Linked DNA regions of Homo sapiens. The protein of the gene in region 1 interacts with the protein of each later gene in a pairwise test. Each region holds a gene or a part of one and is shown on either strand. Other genes may lie near its edges. The genes, in order: NR4A3 and EFEMP1.

What was found.
Region 2: the proteins of NR4A3 (region 1) and EFEMP1 interact in binary tests that used the Homo sapiens proteins (3 or more experiments, as listed by UniProt).

What each region holds. Positions count from the first base shown.
Region 1 is NC_000009.12:99,830,243-99,841,306, forward strand, and holds part of NR4A3 (nuclear receptor subfamily 4 group A member 3), read left to right. Parts: intron 1-2,446; coding exon 2,447-2,576; intron 2,577-3,039; coding exon 3,040-3,212; coding exon of another isoform or gene 3,213-3,290; exon of another isoform or gene 3,291-4,059; intron 4,060-11,064. UniProt on the Homo sapiens protein: Transcriptional activator that binds to regulatory elements in promoter regions in a cell- and response element (target)-specific manner.
Region 2 is NC_000002.12:55,919,233-55,930,922, reverse strand, and holds the start of EFEMP1 (EGF-containing fibulin-like extracellular matrix protein 1 precursor), read left to right. Parts: upstream 1-7,140; 5' UTR 7,141-7,212; intron 7,213-7,983; 5' UTR 7,984-8,024; intron 8,025-8,475; 5' UTR 8,476-8,482; coding exon 8,483-8,563; intron 8,564-11,690. UniProt on the Homo sapiens protein: Binds EGFR, the EGF receptor, inducing EGFR autophosphorylation and the activation of downstream signaling pathways. May play a role in cell adhesion and migration. May function as a negative regulator of chondrocyte differentiation.

The DNA.
Region 1 (11,064 bases):
ATAGAAGACCTTGATCTTCCACCTTCCAATTGTATCATGTTGGGCATGACACTTCATTCTAAGCCTGTTTCCCTATCAATGAATAAAACTCAGAGAAGAGCTGTGTATTCAATGAGATAAAAATATATATGAAAGTGCTTTATAATCTTTAAAGAGCTGTACAGATAGTTCATTATTAAACAAAAGCTATAAAGTTTTGTAAAAATGCACATTTGTGGAGGGATATACATAGCAACAAGCAACAATTATTTTTGATCTTCAGATTGTAAATATCACTACCTGAATTCTGCAGAGAAATGAGAAAATGTTTGGGGAAAGACTGCAATACGTTAAGTGCCCTACAGATATTTGGGATTATGATGTTTTAAATGCAGAATCTTGGTCATTTTATTTTATTTTTTAGCCACTGAGTTTGGCCATTTTTTGTTTTAACTACTCAAGCTTTATCAGAGCTACTTTCAAGTAACTGCATTCCTTTAGCAGATTTGATTTTTACAGGATTTCAGTGGAAAATGCTGAAGGACAGTGAAACTGGCAGCAGAAAGGGGGAAAGAAAAAAACAAGAATTATGAATAATCTACAAATATAATTATCTCTAAATAATGGAGAGTTGACCAAAATACCAGAGTGGTAATACATTCTGAGTCCAGAAATGTCAATTAAGTGTTCCCCAACAGCTTCTCTTTTCTGCAGCAATCCCTCGAAAACAAATCTATACTTGAAAGGGTGGGGGCAAGATGGGGGAGAATCACCCCACAGAACTGTTAATTAAGGGAACCGGAGCAGGTTTTACCCAGTGGCTTTCTACCATTAAATTGAGTTCTTTAAAAATGTGACATGAAGTGCAGTTAATGATAGGAATTCGGTGATTGAACCATAATGATCTCTCCCTGTCCTTAAACACAAATGTAGGGAAGGCTTCAGGTTATTGGGAAAATGTATACCTGAAGCAAAATGCCATCAGCACTCAAATTGGCATAAAGCCTTGAGGATGATGGCAAGAAATAGAGTGTTAGAAATTACTGCATGTTCAATGAAAGCTTTATTCAGGAAACACACGTTTCCTACCCTTACAGACTGCTAAGAATTTAAATGCTGGAACCTCAGAAGTATGCCTGTGTTTCAGAATTTTGCATTTTAAACTAAAATCACCTACTATGGTGGGAGAAACATGTCTTAGACTTGACATAGGTTGGCTTTGTTATATTAAGTTTTATATAAGCAATCTAGAAACTATCCCCTAAAATGAAATTAAAAGGTAACAGGGTAAAACTGAAACATGGGGGTTGAGAATGACTGGAAGTAAATGTTAAAAAGCAAATCTAGATGTTTGAACACAAAATAGATCATAAAGCCCAAGTTACCTGGATTTATTTTCTTTTTTTATTAATGCAGCCCAGGCTTCCCAAATAAATTTCAACTTTCTGCTCTATTTGGAGTTGTATAGATCCAGGTAATTTCTGAACAGTTTCACCCTAAGTGGTAAAAATACGTTCATTTGCACAAATGTTTTCAATTTAAAAAGCAAGCATTTGTTTAAATTTGGAGGACGAAATATGTTTATTTCTCCATGTGTCATTTCCAAATTATATGGATTCTGAAAAATACAACATCATTTTTCTATCCAACCTTAAGTTTTATGATTTTTTTTACAATATGGTTACTGTGTCTATGTCAATAGACATTTATGAAATGACCTATTAATAGGAATTTTCACTGAAAATATATGGCTGTCATATATCTTTCTTTGTCTCATTTTTCGTTTGTACCTTGGGGTTTTTTGTTTTCTTCCTTGGATATAATAATGATTTGTAATAACTACTTTTAAGATTTTGCTTTGAAAAATCAGGAATGGACTGTTTATCATATATGGTCTTTAAAGATAAAATAAGCTATACAGGCTGATTAAGTTAGTTTTTTTGCATTAAAACATTATTTCCTATATGTTTTAATTAGAAAAATCCTGATTTTGGTTTTTATGATTTCATCTCTGTTGGGTAACAAAGCCAGTTACTGTGATATTTGACTTACAATAGTGATAGCAAACAAAGTACATCCCAGATAATTTTGATTTTATTTTAATAAGGTCAGCAATAATCAGGGGAGTGGAACAAGTAGAAAATTGTTCCCAAAGGGATATTAAAAGTGGAGATAATCTAATTCTCCAAGGTATGATATGTTGACCTGGTAATTTCAGATATGATTTTATCATTCAGAGTTGGGTGTCTCCTGAGACTTGCTTTAGAACAATCCGAGATGATTTTCATTGTCAGCAGCTAACACTAATAAAATTGTTTTTCCTGCAGGCTAGCGTTTTAGGAAATTAAATTTATCGAATTATACGAATTGCACTGTCGCTTTTCACATTGTAATTAAAATACATCTTGTCAGGTCCTACCTCTTTCCAGAAACTATCAGTTGACTATCTTGTATTATATTTTCTCAGAGAACAGTGCAGAAAAATGCAAAATATGTTTGCCTGGCAAATAAAAACTGCCCAGTAGACAAGAGACGTCGAAACCGATGTCAGTACTGTCGATTTCAGAAGTGTCTCAGTGTTGGAATGGTAAAAGAAGGTATGGATATAATGCTTTTTACCCAGTTTGCTTATACATATTATCAGAAATCAGTGAAAAAAAGCTAATATTTACATTGGGATGGTGAATTTTTCTAGTTCCTTTTTCCTTTCAACATTTTATTTTTATCATATATATCTACATTTTAAAATAACTGAGGACTATTTATTCTAATTTCTCAAAATTAACAGAGGACTTGTATACATACATCTTTGTTCTATTTAAGAAGGAGACTTTTAGGGCTAATTCATTACCAAATGTAAATATCGGTGGCTTTTATGCTGCTTGTTTCAACTCTCATGAAATCATTGTGTGAATATTATTCCAAACTTATTACCACTTTTAAATGGTTGGTCTCATTAATGATTGCTCAACTGTAATGTGTTTTTATTCCTTTTTGCGATTTATGGTCGTTCATTCCATAATCTTTGAAGATTGTTTTCTTTGTCTCTTTTGGCATCAGTTGTCCGTACAGATAGTCTGAAAGGGAGGAGAGGTCGTCTGCCTTCCAAACCAAAGAGCCCATTACAACAGGAACCTTCTCAGCCCTCTCCACCTTCTCCTCCAATCTGCATGATGAATGCCCTTGTCCGAGCTTTAACAGACTCAACACCCAGAGATCTTGATTATTCCAGAGTAAGTTTTATGATTTCCTGCTTTCAAATGAATGATCAGGGTCTCTATTTATGGCTACTAGTAATAAGAGTTGATTGAATGATTTTGTGTCTGGCACCATGTTAGACAGTTTTCATACTTTTTCTATATTTCTCGCTTCATTTAGCAATTCAGTGCATCCATTGCAGCAAATAATTTTTGCCTTATTGAATCTCTAAATGCCTTAACAAGTGACCCTGACAGTGCTGCACCTGTCATACACATTGTTGCAGGATTCCTGGTGGTTGTGCCAATGAAAATCTGCACAGACAAACTACAATTTGTAGATTTATCTCGTGATCTAGACAAAGTGACTACTGTTTTTTTTCATATTGTGTTCAAACCATCTGGGTGAGCCTCAAGTTATTACTAAGCAGTTTATCCAATTGCATCAGCATTGATTGACCTGCTGCTTATTCAGAGGGATTAGACCATTGGTGGAGAGAAGCGAGCTCTGGCTGTGACATCAGTTGTCAGGAGAACTGGGATGGAACGCCACCTCTGCTACTTCCTGCCTGTGTCACCTGGTTCCTGCTTTTGGCTCTCTCCTGCCTACAGTGGAAATGGCTACAATATTTAACCTCAGAGGGGTGTTCTGAACACCAGTCACACAAGAATGATGGTTGTGAAAATGTTTTTAAGACCATAAATGACGATTGGTGTTGTTATAGTTAAGTCAACCAAAACATATCAACATTTTTATTTCATATGGGATATAGTAAAATCCCATCAGTCTGAACCCTGCAAATTCCTCAAAATTTGGATAACACAGAGAAGAACCATGAGAAAGGATTTCCTGAGCAAATGAATAAACAGCTCTGTAAGGCAATTTCTTTAAAGGACTTAGAAAACTAAACTTCTAGCAAAACAGGGTCTCAATGAAGAGGGAAGAGAAGGAAAAAAAATCACAATTATTGAGCAGTTTCTATATGCTAGACATTGTGGTACATTATCTCATTTAATCCTTTAAACCACCATGAATTGTAGGAATCATTATCCCTCCTACTTGAAGGAAAACAAAAACAAAAACAAAAACAAAAAACCTTAGAAACACAGCTTGCACTCAGATAAAGAAATACCAGTCCAGAGGCCCCCAGTCGGTTGATCTGTCTTGGTGGCTACTACCAAACTGCCCTCCCCAGGTCTAATCAGTGTTTCAAGCTTCTGGCTGAATGGCTGGCAAACAGTGTGAGTGTGTCCCTGCTATGTGCCCTTCTCCTTAGGTTGCAGTGTTGATAGAAATGATTAGTGTACCTGCTGTGATCCTCTTTCCCTCTTCCCCACCCTCATTATAGGCTGCGAAGCCTCCTCTCTGCACCTGATAACAAAACGTCATATGAGAAGCATGGTAGATCCTTAGCATCAAAGGTTGAGGACTCTTATTCTGATTATAAGTAGTGGCTCTTGACTACAATCAAGTCTCAAATAATAGTGTAAGAGAATAAAGCAGAATAATAAGACTAAGTTAACAGTTTAGGCTTCTTTGGAATCATGCGGGCCTAGATGAAAATCCCAACACTGTCCTTTACTAGCTAAGTGACCTTGAGCAACTGATTACACCCTTTGATGCCTCAGTTTTCTCCTCTGTGTTGTGGGGTAATAGTAATATCTACTTCCTGGGGTTGTTCGTGAAGATTAATTAACAATTATACTTGTCAAAGCTTTAGCACAGTGCCCTGTATGTTATTTCCTTGGCCAAACTTTCTTACTCTGCCATTTGTTCAATGTCCTAATGAGCATGAACACTACATTAGGTATCATGCAGAACACTCTAAAGATAAGTATTATGATCTCTATTTCACAGATAAGGAAATTTAAACTGGGAGAGGCTAAAGGGCTGACTTGCCCAAGGTCACTGAACTAATATGCAGCAGAGACAGAATTAGGAGCCAAGTATATTAAGAGCCAAGTGTATTGAACCTAAAATCTGGGCTCCTAAATACCAAGCTTCACTGCCTCTCTGGTTCCAGTGAGAGTGGGTGCTAGAAAAGTATTCAGGAATGAAGAGTTCTCCTCCCAGAAGCACCCTGGCCTCTCCAAAGGCAGTTCATCTGAATTAGTGAAGCTTCTTAGCACTGCCTAGGCTAAGGCTATAGCACACAATCTGACATTGCTCCAGGGCATTTGAAAGCACAATAGATGGTCAGTACAGATAATTTAGGCCTCAAAAGTAATTTTTTGGCCCCAAATTATCCAATTATCAGTCTACATGGCCTAATTAGTCATTCAATGGCAAACCTTTCCCAGCACTTTGAGTTGTCCCAGCTGGGAACTGTCCCCACACTGAAAAATCAATCTAGTGTGTTTGCTTGCCTCTGCACCATTCAGTCTGTTAGTCTAGAGTCATCATCCTCATCAACAAACATTTATCCAATTTAATTGTTAGCTTTGTCCAAAATAGCAGATTGACCATGCCAGAGCCTGGGTCACATTGGTACTACCTTTGGGGCCTGGCTCAATTTTGCAAAGCATATTTATTTTAATTGCATTATTTTGGAATCAGGTTGAACCTCATAACTTGGATTCCCCTGCTTTTAGATGGCATTACACAATTATCAAAAATTGGACCCAAATCAACTAAATTAAAAGACTTTTTAAAAATACAGTGAGTTTTCATCAAAAACTTGGATGAAAGCATAAAAGCATGCTGATCACATTTGCAAATGACAGAAAGCTGGGAGGGATCGCTAATATGATGGATGTCAGTATCAACATTCAGAGTGATCTCGACAGGTTGGAACAGGAAGGGCTGAAACCATCACAAAGAAAGTTAACAAAAATAAATCTGAAGCTCAGCATTTAGAATTTAAACAAATGGGAGAGCCTTGGCAAAGTGGTTCATGTTAAGAAGATCTGGGGAGTTTATTCCATATACACTCAAAATGAACCAACAAAGAACGTGTGTGGTAGAAGGGAGGGATGCCACATTACCTTCAGCTGCAGTAGTAGGAGTATGGGCAGACCCAAGTTGATGATGGTTGCATGGACTCTGTCCTGTCAGACTGTTCTTCGTGAATTGAGTCCAGTTCTAAGCTGGGATTTACTGTTTCTGGGAACTTGTAATGGATGATTGGGGGAAACAGAAATATGTAGGCAAGAAGGGAAAAGATTTGGTGAAATTGGGTCACTCTTTTGCCCTATGGCAAAAAGAACTATTCTCCCAAAGACAGATCTAGAGAGAGGAGGGGGGCCTCTTCCCGCTCACTTGTCTGATAACAAGTGTTGGCCATACTAGCTGCTGTGGAAGTGTGAGTTCATCAACACAGGGAGTAATTAAGGTAGTTTTAGTTTTAGCTTTTTGGGGAACCCCCATACTGTTTTCCATAATGGCTATACTAATTTACATTCCCATCAGCAGTATATGAGTGCTCCCCTTTCTCTACATTCTCACCAGCATTTATTTTTTGTCTTTTTAATAATAATCATTCTAACTGGGGTGAGATGATATGTCCTTGTGGTTTGGATTTGCATCTTCCTGTTGATTTGTGATGTTGAGCATTTTTAAACATACCTGTTGGCTATTTCTATGTCTTGTTTTGAAAAATGTCTATTTAGGTTTTTTATCTATTTTTAAATAGATTTTTTTTCTGCTATTGAGTTGAATTCCTTATATATTCTGGTTATTAATCCCTTGTCGGATGGATAGTTTGCAAAATTTTCTCCCATTCTGTAGTATTTCACTTTTTAAATTGTTTCCTTTGCTGACCATCACATATATTCTTACATAATTTCACTTAAGACTCCAGCTCTGTGTGGTATTATTTATGGTTTGAGTAATTTCCTTAATAATGTCATTCACTGAAATTCAGTTTTCATAATACCTTCCTTCTTAAAGTTTTACATATACAAATTCATAAAACTGGAGTGACCTTGGGATCATCTAATCCAAGTCCCATATTTTCAGAAGAGTAAATTAAGGTTTAAAGGGGTTAACTGGCTTGCCTAATGTCGGTGACAGAGTAGAGGACAAAATCCAGATCTCATCACTCAATAGGTTTCTATTTCATCATACTGTCACTTCTATTTAATGACAATTTATTATATTTTTGAACATATAAACTTTATTAAATATTTTTAAATTACAATAATAGTAATATATATCCATTGGGGTTTTTTTTTAAAGGCAACCATTTACAAGTGGATAAAATGAAAAATGAAAGTCTCTACTTCATTTATAGCTGCCCGATCCCACTCCTTAGCCGTGTTTTAGTGTGTATCCATAATCTATTACATTATAAATAAGAATTTGCCCTGTCAAGTTTGAGAGTTGATTTGAGCCCTACAATTTATTAAAGATGCTAGCTTCCCCCAGTGAGTCAGGTCAATAGAGAAAGGAGGAAATGTGTTGCCAGCCCAGTATGTTTTAATCTTCATGTACTAGCATGTGTTCCTTTAAGGTAGTAAGTGAGCAGTTTTCTCCATTTGTGGGAATGGGAGGTGGAGGGGTTTTGTTCCAAGTCACAGAGGAAATGAATGTTTTAGAGGCCAGAAAGAGCTCCTGAGTTCTGTGAAGCATTCCTGGCTCTGGGACCTTCAGTTCTCCTTTGGGCCAAACTTCTCTCCCTCAAAAGTGAGCTCAGATCATTGTACATCAGTGCAGTCAAAACATGTCACGTTTGATTTGTCTCTCCTCAAAATGTTTCTGTTCTCTGCACCACAGTTGCTTTTAATTTAGCAATACAAGTATGTATAGATACTGGGATTAGCTTCAGAGCCTGCATAATTACTAATGAGAAAACATACTTAGTGTCCTCATTAGTTGATCATTTCAAGTATTTTTCAGCATACTAGGATGTTTTCTGGTAATCAGTGCCACTTAACGGAGTAACAGACTTGCAAATACGAGAGGTGCTGCTCAGATAAAACCAGGCACCAGCAAATGGCATTTAAATGTGTTCACAAGATAGCCTATGAAACAATGTGGCTTAAGACACGTTAGAACTACAAGGTAAACAGAATGAAGCTGCAAAAAGAGTGGTTTCATGAAGCATCTCAGAAGACCCTCTCAAATTGTTACCAATTCACCAGATGATTTCACGCCAGTTCCTGCCCCTCTGTGGGCCAGTTTCCTGATCCAAATGGTAAAGAGATTAAGCTAAATTCATTCCCATTATCTCTCCAGGCTTCTCATTCCCTGATATTCTGACCATAATATTAATAACTGCTATAGTTCCACTATGAGTACAGGTCAGCATTTCCTAAAACATGGTGCCCAGACTGCTCCTACGAGAAAGAGGTGGGGTGTTTGCTTTAAAATGCAGATTCCCAGGCCATACCCACTCAGACATACTGAATCAGAACTGGGAAGAAGGAGAGGCAGGCAAAAATCTGTACTTTAAAAAGTGCCATTGGATGATTCTTTGGCACACTAAGGTTTGAGAACCATCGATATAGTTTATAATAACAACTCAATTTTACCTTGAATTTTCCAGCTTTTCCTGGGGTTGAGAAGGGATGAGCAATAGAGATATAAATTTTCCTGAAAGCAATCAATTCATTTAACAAATACTTACTGAATGGCTGCTAGGTAGTAGGCACTGTTCCAGGGCAATGGACACGTTGCTGAACAAGACAAAGCCCTTATCCACATGAACCTTACATACCTGTAAAGGAGAAAAAGAGTAAACAAATATACAATTGCAGTGATGTCATTGGTGGGAGGAGAGGAATTTTTTGCTTTTTGCTTTTTGGAGTGGGGGCATAGAGTTAGATCAGAAAAGAAAAAATTGGGGGGAAAATATATTCATTGCCAATTTTTAAAATGTCACTTTTTAAAGTGTAAGAACCTAAGAATATGTATACATAGTTTGACTTATACAATGATCACATCTAAAATTTTTAGAGCTATAGTTGAGAAAAGTAACATTTTAAGGGGAGAAAAACGTGTCCTTAGCGTAGTCTACATATTTAGCCAGGGCTGAAAGTGAGATAGAGTAAATATTAGATTCCACTCTGCTATTAAAGCCTCACATCACTAATTTTTGAGGGGTGGTGTTTTCCATGGGTCTCACTTAATTTCCACACAAATATCTCATTTGGGGCCTGGGCTATTGCTGAAGTCTGACTTGTATAGCTGCGTTACTGCCATATGAAACACACAGACCCATTTTAGTTTACATAATATCCATTGCTGTTGTTTGCAGCTCTAGATTCCCATTCTAGGTGCTTTAGAGAAACCTTCCTTAGGCATTGGCTGTCAGTAAATGTAATACTGTGTCTTTGACTAGTGAGAAAGCCAGAGTTCTGACAGATCAATAACCCCTATAGGGTGGAAAAAAATTAGTATAAACAGGAAAAAAGTTCATTTAAAAAAATCTTTTTGCATTTGACCTATGTTCGATTGGCATGATCAGTAAGCAAATATTTCTAGATTTTCTTTGTCAAACCCCAAACCTACTTAGCCCAGAGACAGAGCAATCAATGTAGGGCAGCAGAGACACAGAGCTGGGAGTCCAGTCCTTCCAACTCTAGGACCAGTATTCATTGGGTGAGGTTTTCCTAAACTGGTAGGCCAGGCAGAGAAAAAATCTAAAACGTTTTGTTCCGTTCCTTTACATCTTATGTCCAATAGAGGAGATTTTTCTTTTCCTCCAGCATTGGATGCTGACCCTCCAGTCACCCCCAAGTTACTGGTGGCTCAGACTGAATTCACTTTGGCTCCAAAATTCTGAGACTTGGACCAAAACCACTGCAGGTGAAGCCCAGAGGATCTGGCTGGAGCCTGGCAGGCTGGGCCGGCTGGCTTTCCTTCTTGCTGGGCTCCATCAGAGAAAAGTACACACACAGGGTGGGCAGGGACTTCACTTCCCTGTGTGCAGAAGGCATGAAATGTGAGCCCAGCAGGGGCAGAAGCCTGCAGAGGACCCTGGGTGAAAGCTACACACTTTGATGGATTCTGAACAAATATTGGAAGCAGAGAGATTGTTGAGTTGTGAGCCATGGATTCAGGGGAGTCAGTGCAGGAGGTAGCTGTCAGATCCATTCTCAGGGGAAACTATTCATTCTTTAGTCTTTTTCTCTCTCCCACTATTTTAAAACAAAATAATGCTGAATCAGTGTCAAGTTCCAGGCAATAACATCATACCTGGTGTGATTTAGCAATATTTAGAATCATTTAATGCAAGAGCCAGAAGTAATCTTAGGGATCAGGTAGTCCACTTTATTCCTGTTCCAGAGACTGAAACTGACTCAGAGAGGTTAAATGCCTTGTCTAGAACTGCACAGCAAGTCAGTGCAGAGCCTGGATGAGGACCCCATGACCTGCTGCTTGGTCCAACACACTTTCCTTTACTCCCACTCATTTGGGAGTTTCACAAGTAGCTCCCTCAGCTTTTGAAAGGGAGGATCTGCCCTGAATTTCATTCTGCTCTTGGAGAGCCTGTGGAATTATTAAATAAATTCATAAATAAGGAGAAAATAAAAAAGGGGAAAGTTAATTCCCTTTTCCCCACTCTCTTCCAGTTAAGAGTCTGTGTGCTGGTGGGGCGCGGTGGCTGATGCCTGTAATTCCAGCACTTTGGGAGGCCAAGGCAGGTGGATCACAAGGTCAGGAGTTAGAGACCATCCTGTCCAACATGGTAAAACCCTGTCTCTACTAAAAATACAAAAATTAGCTGGGCATGTTGGTGTGCGCCTGTAGTCCCAGCTACTCGGGAGGCTGAGGCAGGAGACTCGCTTGAACCCGGGAGGCAGAGGTTGCAGTGAGCCAAAATCATGCCACTGTACTCCAGCCTGGCAACAGAGCAAGACTCTGTCTCCGAAAAAAAAAAAAAAAAGGAGGAGGTAGTGGCAAGTGTCTATGACATAGGATCGTGCCGCCATGCTTCCTTCTCCT
Region 2 (11,690 bases), on another chromosome or scaffold:
ATATCTCTCTGTGGATATATAAACTTTTAACCTCTTACCTTGAATAGAGTTTCTACATTTGCCCTATTTAGTCAACAATAAAAGTCAAATATGCCATTTTTTATAAATTATCTGCTAGCAGCATATTATAAATTTCAAGCAGAAAAGTTTGTGGGTTATTTTTTAAGCCTTTCCACATTCTACAGTGAGAGAAGTTAGAAGTTAATGCTAGTTTATCAAAATAATTTATGCTTTAAAGTTCCTTGAAGAGCAGAGAGAAAATAATAACATCCATTGCATTTTTAGGCTTTGGTCTCAGCAGTTCCACTGGTATAGGATATGACATACTAGAGAAAAAAAGTAACAAATCAGTCTTATTAATGCTATATATTTTTTAATTCTAAATGTCGGCAAATACAAAATATCTATGATTTTGTTTAAACCATTGTTCTCTAAAAATTAATTTAAATATTTTCAAAGATATTTTAAAATCTGTTTTGTTATCTGTAATCAGCATCAAGATATAAGATTAACTGTTCACAAAAAGACAGATGAAGAGCATTTCTGTACTTTTCATCCACTAAGTGAAGGAAAAAATAATTCAAGTAAGGTAAAATAAAGTTGGAAAGTAGAAAAAAGAAAATTCTAAAAATCAACAAAATATTATGAAAATGTTCCAAATTGACAAAAGTGGAGTGATGATCCAGTTCTTTAAATTACATATTGAAATAAAATTACTAATTTTCATGGGTATTATTTCTAATTTCATGCTCCATAATACAATCATCCTGAAACCCCATCAGCCTTGATTAGCCAAATGAAGTTTCCGGATATCTAAGTTTGAAAGGAGAGAGTTGGGAACTTGTAGCTGAAAACAACAATTAAAAAAAAAACAGCTTCACATCTGTGTTCGCATCTGAAGTTGCTCTGTAAGATCTGATAACTTGTTAGAAAGCAATCTTTTTTGCAAGGCAGTAGATTTACATCATACATTTTTCTCTCTCCAAGGAAATTCTAATTACTGGTTCCAATCATTTCTGATTGATTTGCTTTTTATTCTTCCAAGGTATTCTCTGCTTTATGATGAAATCAAGCCTTCAATAAAATTCCAAAAATTTTAGAACAATTTACAAGCTCCAGATGACTGAAAGTTTTCTCATGTCCGTTTGGCATTCAGAAAGAGAGTTTCACCAAGTATATTCTGAAGAAGAATACATCTGGCACTCACTAAAACAAAGAACTCACCAGTGACATACTTGAGGCAAATTAATGTTGCGTAAATGCAAATTTGCCAATATTCTTTGAGGCCAAAGCTGCAATCCAACCTCCATATATTTCAATGAGTCCTCTTCTAATGCGCAGGCCACCAGTCACATGAGTGAATGTTTGGGGCATATTTTAGCAATCAATTTAATAACTACACATTATCTTCTATGTACAAATTTAAAATTGCTTATGTGTAATGTGGATTTTTTAAAGAAAAGACTTAGCATCTGTTGAAGACTTGCCTAAGTTCATGTCTTCTCTTGGCCTGATGCAAACTCCAAATCATTGACAAAAAGACAACATAGAAACAAAGAATTTTAGCCCTAGAAAAAAAATTAAAAACCATCTCTTTCAAAGACTTGTTTCAGTAATATAAAGCATATCAGAAATCCAAATGTGTATTCATCATGGGAATATTTTCATGGATAATGTAAATTCTGCTATTCAAAAATACTGAATTTTTATGCATCAATAAGAAAGCAGTCCAAGAAAATAAATAATTTAATCAACATTATTCTTGCAAGAGTCCATTATAGGGCTATCAGTAGTGAATGATCCATTTTTATCAATTCAGTAAGAATACTAGTGTTTTTAAATGAATTCTTTCTGTAAGAAGGAGAGGGTTTTTTCCATCAATTCTGGTTCCAGCCTTGGCTTCTCCTTCAGCAGTTTCCTAGGAGAATATACTTTCACAAATCAAGTGGACCCAAATGTTGCCTGGTTTGGATACATGGCCAGAAACTGTGGGCTAATTCTGTGATTCATATCTTGGTCTCTAGCATGCCAGGGATGCCCACTGTGGGTCCCCGTTGAACACAGTTACTCTACACTTTGATTAAGCACTCTTAAGACTCAGCCACACTGATAGTACATGTTTGATTAAGACACACATTCCAAAGGATACAGAGACATAGATCATAGTGCTCAGTGTGTGATCATCAACATCTGTGAATCTCTTCTAAAATTATGAGTTTGTCACCACATACATCTTCAAATCTTCCTTTTTTTTTTTTGAAACAGTCTTGCTCCGTCACCCAGGCTGGAGTGCAGTGGCGTGATCTTGGCTCACTGCAACCTCCTGAGTAGCTGGAATTACAGGCGCGCACCACCATGCCCAGCTAATTTTTGTATTTTTAGTAGAGAAGGGGTTTTGCTGTGTTGACCAGGCTGGTTTTGAACTCCTGGCCTTAAGTGAATCACCTGCCTCAGCCTCCCAAAATGCTGGGATTACAAGTGTGAACCACCGTGCCCAGCCCAAATCTTTAAAATCTCAGATTCCTCTGAGCTCAGAGCAATTTTAGGAAGGTGAATTTACTGCAATTTCCACTTGCATTCTGCTAAATCCATGCATCCAGTTTGAATCCATAAAGTTGGACTCCATTAAATAAATCATCCAGCAGGGTGCAGTGGCTCCCGCCTGTAATCCCAGCACTTTGGGATGCCGAGGCAGGTGGATCACAAGGTCAGGAGATCGAGACCATCCTGCCCAACATGGTGAAATCCTGTCTCCACTAAAAATACAAAAATTAGCCAGGTGTGGTGGTGTGCGCCTGTATTCCCAGCTACTCAGGAGGCTGAGGCAGAAGAATTGCTTGAGCCCAGGAGGCGGAGGTTGCACTGAGCCAAGATAGTGCCACTGCACTCCAGCCTGGGTGACAGAGGGAGACTCCATTTCAAAAAAAAAAAAAAAAAATTATCAAAATTTAAAATGTTTGCTCTCAAGAGACAGCATTAACAAATTGGAAAGACAAGACAAAGACTAGAAAGAATGTTCGAAAAATGTAAATCTGAAGAGGACTTGCAGGAAGACTATTTTTAAAAACTCTTACAACTAATAAGACCAAAAAATAAAGAAATGAACACAAATTTGAAATAAAATATATTGATGGACAATAAGCATACGAAAAGCAAAATTCAACATCACTGGACATCAGAGAAATGTAAAATAAAACCACAGTGAAATACCACTTACACACCCACCAGAATGGCTAACATTGTAAATTACTGACAATACCAGAAGTTGGCAAGGATTTCAGGCAAATTGAATCTCACATATTGCTGGTAAGAACATAAAATAACACACTCACTTTATAAAACAGTTTGACACTTTCTTATACTGTTAAACATACCCCTACCATATGACAGCAATTTCACTCCTAAGCGTTTATCTAAAAGAAAACATATCCCAGCAAAGACTTAGAAGTGAATGTCCGTAACAGATTTATTCATAAACAATCCAAGTATCTATTAAGATGTAAACAAACAAATCAGGGTATATACATACAATGGAATACTACTCAGCAATAAAAAGGAATGTGTTTCTCATACACCTAATAACAAGGATGCATCTCAAGCAACATGCTGAGTGAAGGAAGTCAGACCCGAAAGAGTATTTACTCTATGATTTCATTCATATGAACTCCCACTGCAAAAAGGCTGCAGGAGAACAAGGTTGTAAACAAGGAGACCAATTAGGAGGATGTTGCAATAATACAGTTGGAAAATGGTGGTGGCTTAGACCAGAGTGGTTGCAAAAGAGGTGATGAGAAGTGGTTCCATTCTGGATATATCATGAAGGTGAAGCCAACAGAATTTCCTGAAGGATAGAATGCAGGATATCTCAGAAAAAGAGAAATCAAGGATGACTCCATGGTCCTGAATCTGAGCAAATAGAAAGATGAAACTGCTTTAACTGAGATGGTGAAGGTGGGTGGAGTAGGTTGGGGGATGATAACAGCAGTTGTGTTCAGTTTGAAACATCCATTAGATGTCCAAATGAAGATAGCAAGTTGGCAGCTGGATATATAGGAACAGTTCCAGGCTGGAGATATAAATTTGAGAGTTTTCACCCCATTTTTCTGGAAAAGTGGCTGGGAACAGGTAGAAAGAGTTTAAGAGAAACAGGAAAAACCATGTGCACAGATCTTCTTACTGTACAAAAAGTAAAGATCCATTTAAAAAAAATCTGGAGGTCATTAATGACTTGGGGGAAAACACTAGAATTTTGATAGTAAAAATATTTGATACAATTACCAAAACTCTGTATACTCAAGTAAGGTTTAGGGAGGGTTGTACACCTCCCCTCTGATCTTGTCCAATACTGTGTGGCTTGCTACCAAACTGGCAATGTCTAGGTAACCCACACTGGATACCCCAGAGATAAAGAGAGCAGCTTCCACCTGATAACCTCCCTCTCCTGCAGTCGCTACCACCCTCCCACCTTGAGTCAGCAGGAAAGGAAAGGAGCTTTTCCTCTCCTCCTGAGCTCTGCCTCCTGCTCAAGGACAGAGTCAAAGTTTTAACCCCTTCAGTTTGTAAGTTTTCTCATTCATGAAATTGTATTTGGCCATTTGCTTCTTAGAAGACAGCTGCCTTGGAAGCAAGCTATTAGTATGACTTTAGAGTTGGAGCCTTCAGAGGTAACTGCAATTTGTGTGGTATGATTTGATAAAAACAGAAAAAAAGATTTTTCTCTCCAGATTCCTGAAATTCCACTATGAAAGGTGAAAGTGAAATGCCCAACTTTGAATGAGCAGTATTGGAGATTTCACTAAGTCAATAAGTGAAGAAAAGAGAAGCTATAGATGAAAAAAGAAACCCATAAAAAGGGAGACTTTTTATTATATATTGACAAATTATAGTTGTATATATTAATAGGGTACAAGGTGTTATGATTTTTTAATACAATGTGTAATAATTAAACCAAGCTAATTAATATATCCATCACCTCAAATATTTGACATTTTTTGTGATGAGAACATTTGAAATTTACTCTCTTAGTGATAATGAAATATACAGTACTCAATTATCAGCTTTATTCACGACACCGTGCAATTGAACTTTAAAAAAATCAAACTTTTCCTCTCTTTTTTTTTTAGATGGAGTCTCACTCTGTCACTCAGAGGGATGATCTCAGCTCACTGCAACCTCTGCCTTCCGGGGTTCAAGCGATCATCCTGCCTCAGCCTCCCGAGTAGCTGGGATTACAGGCACGTGTCTAATTTTTGTATTTTTAGTAGAGATGGGGTTTCTCCATGTTGGCCAGGCTGGTCTTGAACTCCTGACCTCAGGTGATCTGCCCACCTTGGCTGCCCAAAGTGCTGGGATTACAGGCATGAGCCACTGCACCCAACCCTTATTCATCCTATCTAATTGAGGCTTACACTCTTTGACTGTTATCTCTCCATTCCCTGCAACCCTAGCCTCTGGTAACCACCATTCTACTCTCTGCTTCTATGAGTTCAATTGTTTTAAGTTACTTTCAGATACTTGAGAACATGTGGTATTTGTGTTTCTACATTTGGCTTATTTCACTGTGCATAATGTTTTCCACTTCCATCCATGGTGTCACAAATGACAGAATTTCTTTTTTAAGGCTAAATAGTATTCCACACATACACACAGACACATAAAATGGAATACTATTCTCTTTTAAATTTTGTATGCCTAATAATTCATGGTTAAAGGACAAGATAATAACTATTTTTGAGTATCCCGCTGTGGAGACACGATCTCCTTTGATCCTTGCAGCAATGTGTAAGGTAAGTGGCATCATCTTCCTTCTATTAATGGTAGAACTGAAGATCAAAGAGAGTGTCTAACTTGCTTAGGGCTACATAGCCAAGTGGTGAAGCTAAACTCAGTCTAGGCTTACTTGATAGTACACTAACATTAAATGTCTAGGAGTAAATATCTAAAACAAACTGTAAGTCTTCTCTATTTACCATACAAATTATTCAAGTGAACTGCCATTTTTGCCTGGCTTGAAAGATACTTTTCAGAAGAATGGGCTCATATACACATGCACGCGCGCACACACACACACACAATGGAATACTATTTAGCCTTAAAAACGCATATATATCTAAAATATATGTGTGTACATATTTTATATATATATGTGTTTATATATATAATATATATTATATTTGTATACACACACACATATATGCCACATTTTCTTTATCCATTTATCCCTTGATGGACACTTAGGTTGATTCCATATCTTGGCAATTGTGAATAGTGCTGCAATAAACATGAAAGTACAGACGTCTCTTCAACACACTGATTTCAAATCTTCCCAGTAAATACCCAGAAATGAGATTGCTGGATCATATGATAATTCTACTTTCAGTTTTTTGAGAAACCTCCATACAATTTTCCATCATGTTTGTACTAATTTACATTCCACCAACAGCATACAAGCATTCCCTTTTCTCCATTCTTGCCAACACTTGTTATCATAAAGGGAGGTTTGAGAGACCATAAAACAAACCCCACCTCACAATTTTGTTAGTGCAAGTTCTATTTGGCCTATTCCCAACACTAAGCACACAGTAGGTGGCAAATATTTGTTGAATGGATGAATTCTCATTTTTCTCCATTTGTGGAAGCAGACACCTCCTCAAAAAAAAAAAAAAATCCGAAAGAAAAGGTAAAGGAAACAGTTCTATGAATGGGGGTTAATTTACTCTCCTAGCATTCACTTATTGGGAAAAAAAGTAACAGCAGTTTCTAGAACCCTCTGGTCTCTGAGGGAGATGCTGTGTTCCCCTCCTCAGAGAAGAAGAAAACGCACTAGAGAGTGGGAGCATCCCCAAGGCTGAAGCGCATCCAGGACATCACATGTCAACGTGTCCTCTCTGGCGTGGGGTCCCCGCGAGTCTGGGAAACGAGGAGCTGGCAAGGGAGGGCAAGCGGGGGCGGCAAAGAGGGCCCCTGGAGCAGGGGGCGCGGACCTCGCTGCGCTGCGCGCTCTACCGCCGGGCTCGCAACGCTGGGCTCAGCGCTCGCGCCTCCCTCAGCTCTCTCCTCCGCCCCCCTTCGCCCTCCCCCTTTCCCTCCCTTTCTCCTCCTCCTCCTGCCGCCGCGGCCGCTGCCGGACTTCGCCAGATCAGACCCACGGGGCTGCCCTCCCCTGCGCACTCCCCTCGCTGCCCGGGCCCGGAGCGCAGCGCGGCCGCACAGGTAGGAGCCCCCAACGGGGGGTCGCCCCGAGCGAGCCCAGTACTCACTGGGCCGCGCGCGGGAGAGTGAGGTGGGGTGAGCTGAGGGGTGTTGAGTACCCGAGAACTGCCCTGGACTGTGCAGGGTGTCTCGGGCAGAGAGGGAGGTGGAGGTGTGCAGCCTCGGAATGCGATCTGTCAGCAAGTGCGAGTACTCGGGTGACATCTGTTGGGATGGGCATGTGTGTGCGCGCCGACAACCAGCCGGCAGGGCTTTGCCCATAAACGTGGTTTTGAAAGTTTAGGGGACCAGTGTGCGAGATTTAAGCCGCACCTGGATTCCATAGGAGCTGGTTAGAAGCTGGGACGCTGAGCAGCTCCAGGGGACCGCCGCGTTAGCTTGCTGTTAAGAAAGGGGACCTCATCTCCCTGCCGGGCCAGGCCGCCCGCCCGAAACTGGTACCTTGGGCTGCGGTGCGATCCCTGGTTCCGGTCCTAGGCAGCCTGAAACCGAAGGTAGCGTGTCGGGGACCCAGACTGATAAGACAAAAGAGAATCAGTCGCTTTGGGCTGCCCCTCCACACAACCTGGGACTTTTAAACAAAGCTGTGCGCAGAGAAAGGCGTGGAAATGCCACTTTGAGAGTTTGTGCTGGGGGATGTGAGAAGCTCTGAGACATGTGAGAAGGTCTAGTATTCTACTAGAACTGGAAGATTGCTCTCCGAGTTTTGTTTTGTTATTTTGTTTAAAAAATAAAAAGCTTGAGGCCAAGGCAATTCATATTGGCTCACAGGTATTTTTGCTGTGCTGTGCAAGGAACTCTGCTAGCTCAAGGTGAGTATACTGGGAAAGCCTTAACGTTCTAGAGAACAGAGTTTTGCAGCCCCACCTCCATCCCCCGGGGTGTGGGACTGGGGGGCAGGAAATGCACCGTCCCCTTTGAAATGGATTACTGTTTTTTCCTTTCGACCCCCTCTTTCTGCAGCCTGCTTTGTAGGTGCAGTATAAAATGCACGCTGAATGTCTTTTGTATGTAAACAGCGTAGCAGGATGGAGTAACGTGAAATGCAATTCTACAGCAGTTTTTACGTCTTTGCTGCCTCGTTCGTTGGCTACCGAGAAGGTTCAGGAGGGGGAGGGGAGATGAGAAAGCAGATTGGAAGTTGAGTATGGTGGAGCCTCAGCCTCTCCCACCCTCCTTTCCTCGCTTGTGCTCACTGCTAAAGTTTTGTTACTTTCCCCGCAGCAGATACTAAACATTAGTTTGTCCTGTATTTTCTTTGAGATTCACAATGTTGAAAGCCCTTTTCCTAACTATGCTGACTCTGGCGCTGGTCAAGTCACAGGACACCGAAGAAACCATCACGTACACGGTAAGGGGTGATGGAATTTGAAATAAGTACGGTTCAGCGGGATTCTGTGACAAAAAAAGACTTTACACACCCCTGCCAGTGTATTTGGGCTATACTCTGCTGAGGGTGATAAATTAAACAACACTTCATTCATGCTTCATATCTAAGATTCGTTGTAAATTGCCCCCTTGATCCTTTCAAAAGTTCATTGGGCTCACCACCTAAGATAGGAACCAACATGTAATCATTTGTGCAGGGCTAAAAATGGGATCCGTTCAAAAACTAAAACCAAAGAAAGTTACATGTTTCCAAAACATTCAACAAATTAATGGGTGTAAGGAACTGGAAAACCTGGACTCCTACCACATGCAGATAAAACCAATACGTGCAGAATAAGACTCAAGTCAAGTAAGAACGTTAAACACCATAAAGACACATGGCCTTCTTTGTGTACATGACATGCATTCTCAAGTAAGTGGCCTTTATTGAATTTATAAAGGCTATATATTCATTCTTTTTGTATAACTTGATAATTCTAATAAATAAAGGCAGACAACAGTTTATGTGTTACCAGGATGCATATTGGCTAAAGTGGTTTTAAAACGTAATGTGTGCAACTCCGTTTTGCATTTTCTAATTAGCGTCTCTGATATTTCCAAGTAATATTTGATTAGTTAGTTGCATAGGTGTAACCAATGTTTAATAAAATATTAAAAAGATCACCTGACCCCTCCCACTGCTACAAATAGTTGTGGTGAGAACAGAGAAGGACAGTACTGACTTCACTTCTGGTGAGTTTGTTTGCACCTCTGTTCTGTGTTTTCTTGTCTTTAATCAGTGTTAGGCAAATGACATTTGTCCTGGATTGGAATATGAAAAGCACATTTTTCTACTGCTCCCAGTTTAAAATTAAGTAATCCTACTCGAAAGAATGTGAAAAATTTTTGAAAAGAAAACTCTTAAAAATGAACTAATGTCAATTACTGATAATAAACATTATCTCACTTTTTGGTACCACATTATCCCTAGAATGTTAGTATTCATCTGGCAAATGTTCCTTTCTGTTGTTCAGATCCACTATAAATAAAATAGCTTAATACAAATATTTTGTTAACTTCATGTTAAATGCAGTTGCTTCCTCTGCTGAAGATAAATTAAGCAAGAAAAATGAAGGCATGTGCTGTTTATCTTAAAATGAAAATGTTTTGTTATTCAGACTAAACTTACTGCCTTCTCAGGGAGCTAAAATTAAATTCACTACCCACTTTTATAATCATCTCATAAAAGATTTTACTTCTTTTCCAGTTGCTTATCTTCTATGCCCTTCCCTTTGCTAATCACCTAAATCTTCCTCATTTTTACCAGAGAAGGTTCCCTGTGGCTTAAACATGATAGTTTTAAGACCACTAACTAGGGTTCATTATTATTGTAACAAATTTTCCAGATATGTTACCCTTTTGTGCTAAGATTGGGCCTATTCTCCTTTAAATTTTGTATGCCTAATAATTCATGGTTAAAGGACAAGATAATAACTATTTCTGAGTATCCCGCTGTGGAGACACGATCTCCTTTGATCCTTGCGGCAATGTGTAAGGTAAGTGGCATCATCTTCCTTCCACTAATGGTAGAACTGAAGATCAGAGAGAGTGTCTAACTTGCTTAGGGCTACATAGCCAAGTGGTGAAGCTAAACTCAGTCTAGGCTTACTTAATAGTACACTGACATTAAATGTCTAGAAGTAAATACCTAAAACAAATTGCAAGTCTTCTCTATTTACCATACAAATTATTCAAGTGAACTGCCATTTTTGCCTGGCTTGAAAGATACTTTTCAGAAGAATGGGCTCGTATCCACATAATAGCCTCATAGTCCTCTTCCATATTAAAGATGGTGTCCATTCAGCTGTTTACTCAACAACTATCTGCATAAGCAATTCTCATCACTATTAAAAGAATTTGTTTGTTTACTAAGAAAATTCAGTCTCCTCTTGGAGAATTTAGCCTGGGAAGACAGTGTTGAAAACTACAAAGTTCCTAAGCAAGGACAAATGATACTATTATACAGATTATACAAATTGCCAAGGAAATAGAAAAGCAAGGAGGTGATTAATGTTGGTGCCAGCATATTAGAGGAGACAGAACTCTGTGCTGGTTCTTGAAGGAAGTGATGACCTTGGTTGGATTGATCTAGAAAGGCTGAAGAGGCACCTGAGTCAGAGAGTGGCATAATCAAAAGCTAGAGCTGAAAGCACCTGAGACCAATCCAGGTGGTGATAAGGTCAGATCAGCTGGAACTGGGTAGTGGGAAGAACCCAGAGATGGTGATGATGAGAGATCTGCAGGTCACTGTGAGGTCTCAGAGAGAGGAGCAACATAACCAAGAGCACAAGAAAGATCATGGGGTCTGTATGCAGCATGTAGAGATGCGGGGCCTTGCCTACTCATGGGCCAGCAAAAGCCTTTCTTAGTAGACATGGTAGAAATGGACACAAAGTCAGCAGAGATGGAAGGAAAATAAGTGGAGCATTCAGCACTGATGTTAAAGTTGGAATCCTGGGTTTCGAAAAAGGTAGTGGTACCTTTAACACTGTTTGGGAAACAAGAAAAAAATTAGTCTGAGAGACAAAGTGAATTTAGTTCTCGCTCCAGTAAGTTTCAGACATCAGTAAAATATCTAAATGGATCTCTGGGCTTCCATTCAGCTATTTCCTTGTCAAGCATCCATTGTGTACATAAGCAGCTCTCAGTTATATTAAAAGAATTTAAGTTTATTTGTTTGTTTACTCCACTTTTGCTCAATCCTTCCTTGGGCTTCTTCCTTACAGTGACTTTCTCAAATGAGCGTCTGATCAGATTGTTTCCTGAGCTTAAAAATTCTTCAGAGGCCTCTTATCGCCTGTAGCAACATTTCTCAAGAAGTAGTTCCTAGACAACCTGTATGGGAATCGCCTGGGATACTTGCTAAGAATTTAGATTCCAGGCCCCCTACCCAGACCTACAGAATCAAATCCTTTGGGTGGGCCCAGGAATCTTCATTTTAACAAGAACCCTGAATGATCCTTAGACACAATAAAGCTTGAGATTCACTGACCTTCAGGGTAGAATTCAGGCTTCCATTCCTAAAGAAAGGCTTTCTTGTTTTGGCCCTG